Homo sapiens: one gene and its partners. The protein of the gene in region 3 purifies or fractionates together with the protein of the main gene of each other region. This does not show direct contact. Each region holds a gene or a part of one and is shown on either strand. Other genes may lie near its edges. The genes, in order: CCNYL1, VCAN and BCAN.

Region 1 (3,821 bases), on a different chromosome or scaffold from region 3:
CGGTGGCTCACGCCTGTAATCCCAGCACTTTGGGAGGCCGAGGCGGGCGGATCAAGAACTCTGGAGTTAGAGACCAGCCTGACCAACATGGTGAAACCCCGTCTCTACTAAAAATTCAAAAATTAGCTGGGCGTGGTGGCGCACGCCTGTAATCCCAGCTACTCGGGAGGCTGAGGCAGAGGAATCGCTTGAAACCGAGAGGCGGAGGTTGCAGCGAGCCGAGATCGCGCCACTGCACTCCAGCCTGGGCGGGCGACAAAACGAGATTCCGTCTCAAAAAAACAACTTGTCTGCACCCCTGGTAATAACCTCTCACACCCTTCACAGTCATTTTACGCCCCTCCCCCCATTTTCTTTCTTTCTGTGTTCAAATTATAGTTGGAAGGAATAAAGCAGCTTCTTTCACGCCGACTTAACCTATTAGGAATACCATATAGTGTCTCCTATGGCAACCTCTATTTTGAGTCTAGATAAGAAATCCTCAAACATCTGGGTCTAAACTGTCGCGGGCATCAGCTATCTTCACGGATGGGAGGAAGGAACAATCAGACCCTTACCTGGTTCCTTCACTTAGGTACCATCTGGATGGGTTAAGGGAGGGAATGGGATGAGTACTCCGAAGTTGAGGTATTTGAGTTTCCATTGAGAAAAGGAAAACAATATACCCCAAAAGTCTTAGCAAAGTCCCACCAGACAATGAACAGAGCTACAAACAAGAAGGGCGGCGGACTAGAGGGTCCCACGCCGGCTTGGGAGAATGGGAAGCGGGAGCAAGAACTGGGCGTTACGGTAAGGAGGAGGAAAAGAAACTGGCCAGACGCAGCAGGGCAAGAATAAGGGGTGGGGACGCGAGGCAGAACCAGCCTTCGTCCCGGGGCCGGCTACCGGCAGGAAGGAGCCCGAGGCGGCGGATGCCTCCCGGGGGACTCTGGGGGAGGAGGCGGGCAGAGGTGAGCCCGAGGGCGGATGGCATCCGCCGCCTCCTTACCTTCGGGCATCTCGCGGTCGCTGATGTGCTGCAGGTGGTGGCCCTCGCCCTCTCCGAAATCCAACTCGGCAGGCTCCACCACAGCGGGCGCTACCGCCACCGCGTCCCCGGACACCGCCTCGTAGATGTCGGACGCGCAGTACAGCTCCGCCGACCCCGCGCGCCGGCCCAGCTTGGGGCTGGCATTGGGGGACACGCAACAGGTCAGCGTGTTCCCCATGGGAAGCCTCCGCTCCTCTCTGCCACCGCCTTCGCTCGCCCCCTACTCCGCCGCCCTCAACAGCCGCCCCCTCCCCCAACAATGGCGCGGCCGGCACCGGCAGCCCCGGGCTACGCTGGGGCTGCACCGCGCAAGCAGACGCCGCCTCGCCCGCGGTTCGCCCGCCCGCCCCGCGGCCCGGCCCCGGGCAGGGCTCGGGCCTCGGCCGCACCCCCACCGCCGCGCTGCCGCCGCCTCCCTTAAGCTGACTCGTCTGCGAGGGCGGTGACCAGCCCGGCTTATTTAAAAGGGGTGGGGAACCCAACAAGCGCTGTGAAGCACAGCCACTGCCGGGAGAGAGCGCGGCTGGAGCTCCTCCTCCTTCCGCCGCCGCCTACCGACTGAAGGCCGCTGGCCCTGGCCGGTGCCTGCCAACCGGAACGCGACCTGCGGTCACCTGGTTAGGAGGAACCAATCATGGTCAGAGTTCCCCCTCCGGCGCCCGCCTCGAAGCCAGGCACGTGACCTGCTGCCCCGCCCCCGCCTGGCAGCTGCCCAGCCCCTCACGCCGCTATCCCAGACTCGGGTTTTCATTCATCGCTGGCTGCTGGGAGCTTTCCGGTCCTACTGGAAGCGCACGGGCATTTGTAACTGGAAGCTGTGTCAATGATCTCTGTAGAAAGCCGTTATTAGTAAAGAGTTCGCTCCATTAGCAACTCTTCTTCCGAGTCTGACAGCTTTCGTTTGCTCACTAAACTTGGTTACACCCAAATTGTTAACTGTTTTTGTAACTCAGTGCTCCGCTCCTGTCTTCCAATGAGCGTTAGTTTTCACCTGCAACGTGATCATAGCAACCCTGGGGCCCTGGTCCTACTCTCCATAAAGAGTTGTGGCTGTGGGTCTTGAATGAGACTCGAGGACACGTCACCCTTCCACTTCCTCATCCATAAAATAGGGACCTAACTCGTCCCTGCCAACTCTGAAATGCTGGGACTCGCCAACTCCCTTTTCTTGCCTGTTTCTCTCCTCTAGGCAGGGACTTCCAGGTTTCTCTTCTTGTACTAAAAACAGCACAGAAAGCACGATTTTCTCACGCAAAACTGAGAACCATGCAGTGGGGCACCACAGTCTTGATTCCATGAAGATGAATAGTTACCATTTGGCAAGCACTATGTGCCAGACAGTGTTCCAACTGTGGTATATTTATTTAACCCTTAAAAACAATCCCGGCCGGGCGCGGTGGCTCATGCCTGTAATCCCAACACTTTGGGAGGCCGAGGCGGGCGGATCACCAGGTCAGGAGATCCAGACCATCCTGGCTAACACGGTGAAATCCCGTCTCTACTAAAAATACAAAAAATTAGCCGGGCATGGTGGCACGCGCCCGTATTCCCAGCTACTCGGGAGGCTGAGGCAGGAGAATCACTTGAACCCGGGAGGCAGAGGTTGCCGTAAGCCGAGATCGCGCCATTGCACTCCAGCCTGGGCGACCTAGGCTCCGTTTCAAAAAAATAAAACATAAAAATAAAAATAAATAAACAAATATATATATATACACACAATGTCACTTCCTCCCTAAGCTTGATTTCTACCTTTATTTTCTGATCATCATGATCAGGGACCCTCACCCTGAGCAGTCATGTAAGCTTGCGGAAGTAACTTAACTTCTGCGTCCCAATTTCTTCTATAAAACCTGCAAAATGGGATTGTTTTTTTTTTGTTTTTTTTTTTTTGAGACGGAGTTTTGCTCTTGTTGGGCGCGGTGGCTCACGTCTGTAATCCCAGCACTTAGAGAGGCAGAGGCGGGTGAATTGCTTGAGGTCAGGAGTTCAAGACCAGCCTGACCAACATGGAGAAACCCCGTCTCTACTAAAAACACAAAAATTAGCCAGGCATGGTGGCGTCCACCCATAGTCCCAGCTACTAGGGAGGCTGAGGCAGGAGAATCTCCTGAACCTGGGAGGCAGAGATTGCAGTGAGCCAAGATCAGTCCACTGCACTCCAGCCTGGGCGACAGAGCAAGACTCCGTCTCAAAGAAAAAAAAAATTGTCTGAAACCCTAGGAATGTCATTAGATACCATTTTGGATGATTCTTGTAGACTTGAGACGATGCCTATTTTAAGGTACAAAATAATGCCTGCATTTAACAACAGACATACACAAAAATAGATATCTACGACCTTGAAAACTGAAGAATTTAAAACTTGCTAACCAGGAAGATATTGGGAAGCATTGTTACGGAAATAGATTTTAAAACATTTTGAATGAAGGGAATATTAGAGAGAATTAAGAAAAAAAAATTCTGTAACAGTGGCAAGCCTGGGAGAGCAAAGGGAAGCAAGTAGGAGGAATGTGCTTTGAATTAAGCAAGAGTTTGATTCTGTGAAAGAAGCTGAGACTTTATATAGGTCCAGAGTTAACTCATACGTTCACTATCCATTCAATACCTGAGCTCTTAGCACATGTCACATACTTTTTAAGTGCTGGGGATGTTGCTTTCACCAAGATAAAAAAAGGCTCCTGTTCCTGCAAAACTTCCAGTAAGGGAGTCAACAGACAACATTGGCCATCACCTCCACCTTCATGGCCTAGGATGGCTATTGATCTCCAGCTATTGGGTCTTCATTCCAGAC
Region 2 (3,821 bases), on a different chromosome or scaffold from region 3:
GGGCTACAGAAGTAACATTTGGTGAAGAGGTAGAAAAAAGTACTTCTGTCACATACACTCCCACTATAGTTCCAAGTTCTGCATCAGCATATGTTTCAGAGGAAGAAGCAGTTACCCTAATAGGAAATCCTTGGCCAGATGACCTGTTGTCTACCAAAGAAAGCTGGGTAGAAGCAACTCCTAGACAAGTTGTAGAGCTCTCAGGGAGTTCTTCGATTCCAATTACAGAAGGCTCTGGAGAAGCAGAAGAAGATGAAGATACAATGTTCACCATGGTAACTGATTTATCACAGAGAAATACTACTGATACACTCATTACTTTAGACACTAGCAGGATAATCACAGAAAGCTTTTTTGAGGTTCCTGCAACCACCATTTATCCAGTTTCTGAACAACCTTCTGCAAAAGTGGTGCCTACCAAGTTTGTAAGTGAAACAGACACTTCTGAGTGGATTTCCAGTACCACTGTTGAGGAAAAGAAAAGGAAGGAGGAGGAGGGAACTACAGGTACGGCTTCTACATTTGAGGTATATTCATCTACACAGAGATCGGATCAATTAATTTTACCCTTTGAATTAGAAAGTCCAAATGTAGCTACATCTAGTGATTCAGGTACCAGGAAAAGTTTTATGTCCTTGACAACACCAACACAGTCTGAAAGGGAAATGACAGATTCTACTCCTGTCTTTACAGAAACAAATACATTAGAAAATTTGGGGGCACAGACCACTGAGCACAGCAGTATCCATCAACCTGGGGTTCAGGAAGGGCTGACCACTCTCCCACGTAGTCCTGCCTCTGTCTTTATGGAGCAGGGCTCTGGAGAAGCTGCTGCCGACCCAGAAACCACCACTGTTTCTTCATTTTCATTAAACGTAGAGTATGCAATTCAAGCCGAAAAGGAAGTAGCTGGCACTTTGTCTCCGCATGTGGAAACTACATTCTCCACTGAGCCAACAGGACTGGTTTTGAGTACAGTAATGGACAGAGTAGTTGCTGAAAATATAACCCAAACATCCAGGGAAATAGTGATTTCAGAGCGATTAGGAGAACCAAATTATGGGGCAGAAATAAGGGGCTTTTCCACAGGTTTTCCTTTGGAGGAAGATTTCAGTGGTGACTTTAGAGAATACTCAACAGTGTCTCATCCCATAGCAAAAGAAGAAACGGTAATGATGGAAGGCTCTGGAGATGCAGCATTTAGGGACACCCAGACTTCACCATCTACAGTACCTACTTCAGTTCACATCAGTCACATATCTGACTCAGAAGGACCCAGTAGCACCATGGTCAGCACTTCAGCCTTCCCCTGGGAAGAGTTTACATCCTCAGCTGAGGGCTCAGGTGAGCAACTGGTCACAGTCAGCAGCTCTGTTGTTCCAGTGCTTCCCAGTGCTGTGCAAAAGTTTTCTGGTACAGCTTCCTCCATTATCGACGAAGGATTGGGAGAAGTGGGTACTGTCAATGAAATTGATAGAAGATCCACCATTTTACCAACAGCAGAAGTGGAAGGTACGAAAGCTCCAGTAGAGAAGGAGGAAGTAAAGGTCAGTGGCACAGTTTCAACAAACTTTCCCCAAACTATAGAGCCAGCCAAATTATGGTCTAGGCAAGAAGTCAACCCTGTAAGACAAGAAATTGAAAGTGAAACAACATCAGAGGAACAAATTCAAGAAGAAAAGTCATTTGAATCCCCTCAAAACTCTCCTGCAACAGAACAAACAATCTTTGATTCACAGACATTTACTGAAACTGAACTCAAAACCACAGATTATTCTGTACTAACAACAAAGAAAACTTACAGTGATGATAAAGAAATGAAGGAGGAAGACACTTCTTTAGTTAACATGTCTACTCCAGATCCAGATGCAAATGGCTTGGAATCTTACACAACTCTCCCTGAAGCTACTGAAAAGTCACATTTTTTCTTAGCTACTGCATTAGTAACTGAATCTATACCAGCTGAACATGTAGTCACAGATTCACCAATCAAAAAGGAAGAAAGTACAAAACATTTTCCGAAAGGCATGAGACCAACAATTCAAGAGTCAGATACTGAGCTCTTATTCTCTGGACTGGGATCAGGAGAAGAAGTTTTACCTACTCTACCAACAGAGTCAGTGAATTTTACTGAAGTGGAACAAATCAATAACACATTATATCCCCACACTTCTCAAGTGGAAAGTACCTCAAGTGACAAAATTGAAGACTTTAACAGAATGGAAAATGTGGCAAAAGAAGTTGGACCACTCGTATCTCAAACAGACATCTTTGAAGGTAGTGGGTCAGTAACCAGCACAACATTAATAGAAATTTTAAGTGACACTGGAGCAGAAGGACCCACGGTGGCACCTCTCCCTTTCTCCACGGACATCGGACATCCTCAAAATCAGACTGTCAGGTGGGCAGAAGAAATCCAGACTAGTAGACCACAAACCATAACTGAACAAGACTCTAACAAGAATTCTTCAACAGCAGAAATTAACGAAACAACAACCTCATCTACTGATTTTCTGGCTAGAGCTTATGGTTTTGAAATGGCCAAAGAATTTGTTACATCAGCACCAAAACCATCTGACTTGTATTATGAACCTTCTGGAGAAGGATCTGGAGAAGTGGATATTGTTGATTCATTTCACACTTCTGCAACTACTCAGGCAACCAGACAAGAAAGCAGCACCACATTTGTTTCTGATGGGTCCCTGGAAAAACATCCTGAGGTGCCAAGCGCTAAAGCTGTTACTGCTGATGGATTCCCAACAGTTTCAGTGATGCTGCCTCTTCATTCAGAGCAGAACAAAAGCTCCCCTGATCCAACTAGCACACTGTCAAATACAGTGTCATATGAGAGGTCCACAGACGGTAGTTTCCAAGACCGTTTCAGGGAATTCGAGGATTCCACCTTAAAACCTAACAGAAAAAAACCCACTGAAAATATTATCATAGACCTGGACAAAGAGGACAAGGATTTAATATTGACAATTACAGAGAGTACCATCCTTGAAATTCTACCTGAGCTGACATCGGATAAAAATACTATCATAGATATTGATCATACTAAACCTGTGTATGAAGACATTCTTGGAATGCAAACAGATATAGATACAGAGGTACCATCAGAACCACATGACAGTAATGATGAAAGTAATGATGACAGCACTCAAGTTCAAGAGATCTATGAGGCAGCTGTCAACCTTTCTTTAACTGAGGAAACATTTGAGGGCTCTGCTGATGTTCTGGCTAGCTACACTCAGGCAACACATGATGAATCAATGACTTATGAAGATAGAAGCCAACTAGATCACATGGGCTTTCACTTCACAACTGGGATCCCTGCTCCTAGCACAGAAACAGAATTAGACGTTTTACTTCCCACGGCAACATCCCTGCCAATTCCTCGTAAGTCTGCCACAGTTATTCCAGAGATTGAAGGAATAAAAGCTGAAGCAAAAGCCCTGGATGACATGTTTGAATCAAGCACTTTGTCTGATGGTCAAGCTATTGCAGACCAAAGTGAAATAATACCAACATTGGGCCAATTTGAAAGGACTCAGGAGGAGTATGAAGACAAAAAACATGCTGGTCCTTCTTTTCAGCCAGAATTCTCTTCAGGAGCTGAGGAGGCATTAGTAGACCATACTCCCTATCTAAGTATTGCTACTACCCACCTTATGGATCAGAGTGTAACAGAGGTGCCTGATGTGATGGAAGGATCCAATCCCCCATATTACACTGATACAACATTAGCAGTTTCAACATTTGCGAAGTTGTCTTCTCAGACACCATCATCTCCCCTCACTATCTACTCAGGCAGTGAAGCC
Region 3 (3,600 bases):
TAGCCACCCTGGGCTGCAGTGGTCCAGGCCACCATCCCAGGCTGCATACAGTTGGCCCGTGGTGGCAATCTCTGCACCCCGCTCCTGGCAGTACGCCCGTGCTTCCTCCAATGTCAGCTTCTCTGGAGGGTCACCCAGGAACAGTTCTCCTGGGTGGAGAAGAGAAGGCTGGGTTATCAGGCAGCTGGTAGCTCCTTCCACTCTGGTCTCCCATGGGAACCCTGGGCAAGCTTCTCCAGTTCCCTCATCTGTGGCAGGGAGTCAACTACTCTACTTCATAGGATCATAGTCTGAATAGAACCTCAAGATGGATATTAGAGCTCAAAGAGATGGGGCCCAAACTTCTTGTTCTGCAGAGTCATGCACAGAGTCCACCTGGCAGGTGGTAGATGAGTTAAACTCGGTATCCTGCTGCCTGGCTGAGACTTTGGTCATGAGCTTGCCTCTGTGACAGTGTTTGGAGAGAGGGACACCAATTGTCTCCTTACTCCTGCTTGCCCCCTTAAACTCAGGAGGGATAGTAAGGTCCTGCAGAGGCCCCGGGAGGACCTATGGGCAGCATGGGAGTAGGAAATTGTCCCCTGGGAACCTCTCACTCCTAATCACCATTTAGGTCTTCAGCATAACAGTACACATCATAGAGGTCATCCGGGTCCACCACACCATAGTTCCGGACCCCGGGGAAGCCATCCATGTCTCCGTAACAGGCCTCTCGTGGGGTCTGGATGGGATACCTAGGGAGGAAGGACAGAATCACTTAGTACAGATGCTTTCACCAGGGAGCCAGCCCATATTGATTCTATTGAACCCCACTGCCACCACAGTGCAGACACTTGCTGACAGCTGGCTGTCCTTCTAGCACTGCAGGGATGCACATGCTCAGGGTCCTCACCTCCCCTCCTCAGACCAGCCTCATCCCCCAGAGGCAAAAAGCCCTGCATGTCCAGCCTGACACAGCAGGCAGCACCCAGCAGAAGGGGGGCCATGGCCACCTCAGGGGCCAATAGAAGCCCCAATCCACAGCCCCTGCCCACCTCACGGTCTGATCCGACAGCCAGCCAGCATCACATTGCTCATAGCCCCCAAGGTAGGCGGCATAGAGCTGCTCCGGGGTGGCGATGTGGGCTCCAATGCGGGCACAGGCCTCCTGGGCCCCAGAAAAGGAGAAAGCATAGCGGGCAGAGCCCTCTCGGTAGAGAAAGACGACCCCTGTGGGGCAGAGAGGACCCCTGAGCCAGGTGAGCACCCAGCACGCTGGCCTCCCCTCACCCTCCTTGTCACTCCTCTGTACACAAGGGTAAATAAAGTTCAATTGTGCTCACTCTACAGCATGAGGGACTTAAGTTAGATTGTGGGTAGAATGTCCTCCACCTGAAGAGAGAAAGGAGACAACAAAGGCCCGTGTCTCCTCACTCTTTTTCCAACCCAGGCTGCGCCTTCCAGCTACCTTTGCTTCCCTCTCACACTGTGGGATCCCCGAAGGCAAGAGTCCTCCCTTCCCTCCCTCCCTCCCTCCCTCTGGAACCTCCCTGCCCTCTCACCTTTGACCTTGACCTCCACAGCGTCGCTGCTGTCATCGATGCCGTGCTGGACCTCACAGCGATAGATACCTGAGTCGTTGGGGCGCAGCTCGCTCAGCGCCAGGGAGACGTCGGTGAGCGACGCTGGGTACGCAGGCAGTGCCACGCGGAACCGGTAGGCCTCGTTCACCTTGACGCGCACTCCCCGCGCCACCAGCACCTCTGCCTCCCGGCCCCGGGACAGGAAAGTCCACTTGACCCGCGGAGAGCCCAGCACAGCCCGGCGGCTCGGCGGTGGCCGCAGGTAGTGGACGTGGCAAGGGATGGTGAGGGCGCCGCCGAGCACGCCCTGCAGTGGCGCGTCGCCCGCGATGCGCACGCGAAAAGCGCGGTCCTCTGTGAACGGGTGGAGCCGGCTGGAACTTAACGCTGTCGACCCTCAGAGTCCCACCCGGTGGCCTCCAAGCCCCGCTCCAGGATCCCTCCTTCCGGCCCCAGGATTCCCCGGCCCCCCTAGGACCAGGGGCCAGGGGCCAGGGGCCAGGGTCCTGCAGCCCTACCTCTAGGTCCTCCAGGACCACCCCGACGGTCTCCAGACCCATCCCCCAAAGTCTCCCAGTCAATTCAGCCCCCAGGATTCCTTGCCCTGCTCTCAGAGTCTTCCACTTCCTCTCCAAAATTCCTAGACCACACCCCAGGGTCCTCCAACCTCGCCCCCTGAGTCCTCCAGCCCAGTTTCCCAGTCTGCTCCCTTTAGGGCCTCCTTCAGGGTTTCTCCCAGTTCCACCCCTTTCCCACCTCCTAGCTTCAGGATCCCCTATCCTCCACCTTAGGGGCCCAAAGCCTTGCACCCAGTGCCCTTCCCTAGTCCTGCCCCATGATTTCTCCAACCCACCAGATGCTCACAGCTCAGCCCTTATTTCCAAGTGTTCCAGCCTGGACGCTTCCCCACAGCCCTCCAATTCTCTCTCTTCCTGGGGCCCCTAAGCCTGGAAGCAGTTGGTTAGGGCTGAACAAGACAGAGACGGTGACCCCAAGTGGGGTTGCTTACCTGAGCTGTCTCCTTCCAGAACATCTGCTAAAGCTGCAGGAGCCTGGGCCAGGACCAGGGCTGCCAGCAGGGGCAGGAACAGCTGGGCCATGCTGCAGGCTGACAGAGGGACATGAGAAGGAAAGATGGGGTTAGACTTCAGGATGGACTTCCCCCCTGCTCCCTACCACACCCATGTGGGTTCACACATATCCTGGCTCCAGAAGTCCCCTACCTTCACATCACCATGGACTCTCTGTTTCTGATCCCCATCTTCCCAGCAAGTGATTTCTTCTCAGAACCAAAACCCGAGTCCTAGTCAACTCACTGTGTGACCTAAGCCAAGCTCCTTACCTTCTCTGAGCCTTTATTTTCTTACTTATAAAAAAGCATCATCATTACTATCTCATGAGTTGAGATAGGACCATGTGCTTTGAGAGTGTTTAGTATCTTAAAACTCCTGTACAAATGCATAGCACCAGGCAGACAGTAGGAGCTCAGTTTACAGCATGAATGGTGGGTGCTCTTATACTCAGAATTCCATCTGCTCCTCCCAGTGCCAGACTCCTTCCTCGAACCCAGAGCCTTCTCCCATAGTATCTCTTTAGCCTCTTCTGCCTTCTAGACTGTCCCTGCCTCCAGGGACACCATACTCACCTGGCCTTTTCCAGGAGGGCCTCCTAGACCGAACGCAAGTAAGCACAGCTTCTCCTGAGCCCACCCTCTCCTCTACTTCCTCCCCACCATTATTTGTAAGGAAACTCCTCTCTTTACTCCCCAACATTCTCCATCCCCCTTCCTTGGCTGCCTCCTCCCTTCTTCTTCCCAGCCTCTCCTTTCTGCCTGGCACGGGCTTTCCCACCGGAACTCTTGGCTCAGAAATCAGTTGGGACAAAGCCCCTGTCTCTGCCAGTCTGGCCTCTATCCAGCCCCTCCCTTCCCCCACCCTACCTTTTGTGAAAGCCTTGGGCTGGAGGGTGGACTAAGGGGGGGGAGAATAAATGGGAGGGGCTACCCCTTCCTACCCCTGGCTATCAGAAGCTCTAGAAC

What was found.
Region 1: the proteins of BCAN (region 3) and CCNYL1 purify together in Homo sapiens (affinity purification with mass spectrometry; 2 studies listed by BioGRID and IntAct, with this or other methods). This does not show direct contact.
Region 2: the proteins of BCAN (region 3) and VCAN purify together in Homo sapiens (affinity purification with mass spectrometry; 3 studies listed by BioGRID and IntAct, with this or other methods). This does not show direct contact.

Annotation. Positions count from the first base shown.
Region 1 is NC_000002.12:207,709,284-207,713,104, reverse strand, and holds the start of CCNYL1 (cyclin-Y-like protein 1), read right to left. Parts: upstream 1,466-3,821; 5' UTR 1,209-1,465; coding exon 989-1,208; intron 1-988. UniProt on the Homo sapiens protein: Key regulator of Wnt signaling implicated in various biological processes including male fertility, embryonic neurogenesis and cortex development. Activates the cyclin-dependent kinase CDK16, and promotes sperm maturation.
Region 2 is NC_000005.10:83,537,694-83,541,514, forward strand, and holds part of VCAN (versican core protein isoform 1 precursor), read left to right. Parts: coding exon 1-3,821. UniProt on the Homo sapiens protein: May play a role in intercellular signaling and in connecting cells with the extracellular matrix. May take part in the regulation of cell motility, growth and differentiation. Binds hyaluronic acid.
Region 3 is NC_000001.11:156,645,117-156,648,716, reverse strand, and holds part of BCAN (brevican core protein isoform 1 precursor), read right to left. Parts: exon of another isoform or gene 3,335-3,600; coding exon of another isoform or gene 3,208-3,334; intron 2,982-3,207; exon of another isoform or gene 2,671-2,981; coding exon of another isoform or gene 2,663-2,670; coding exon 2,572-2,662; exon of another isoform or gene 1,917-2,571; coding exon 1,542-1,916; intron 1,210-1,541; coding exon 1,035-1,209; intron 735-1,034; coding exon 607-734; intron 150-606; coding exon 1-149. UniProt on the Homo sapiens protein: May play a role in the terminally differentiating and the adult nervous system during postnatal development. Could stabilize interactions between hyaluronan (HA) and brain proteoglycans.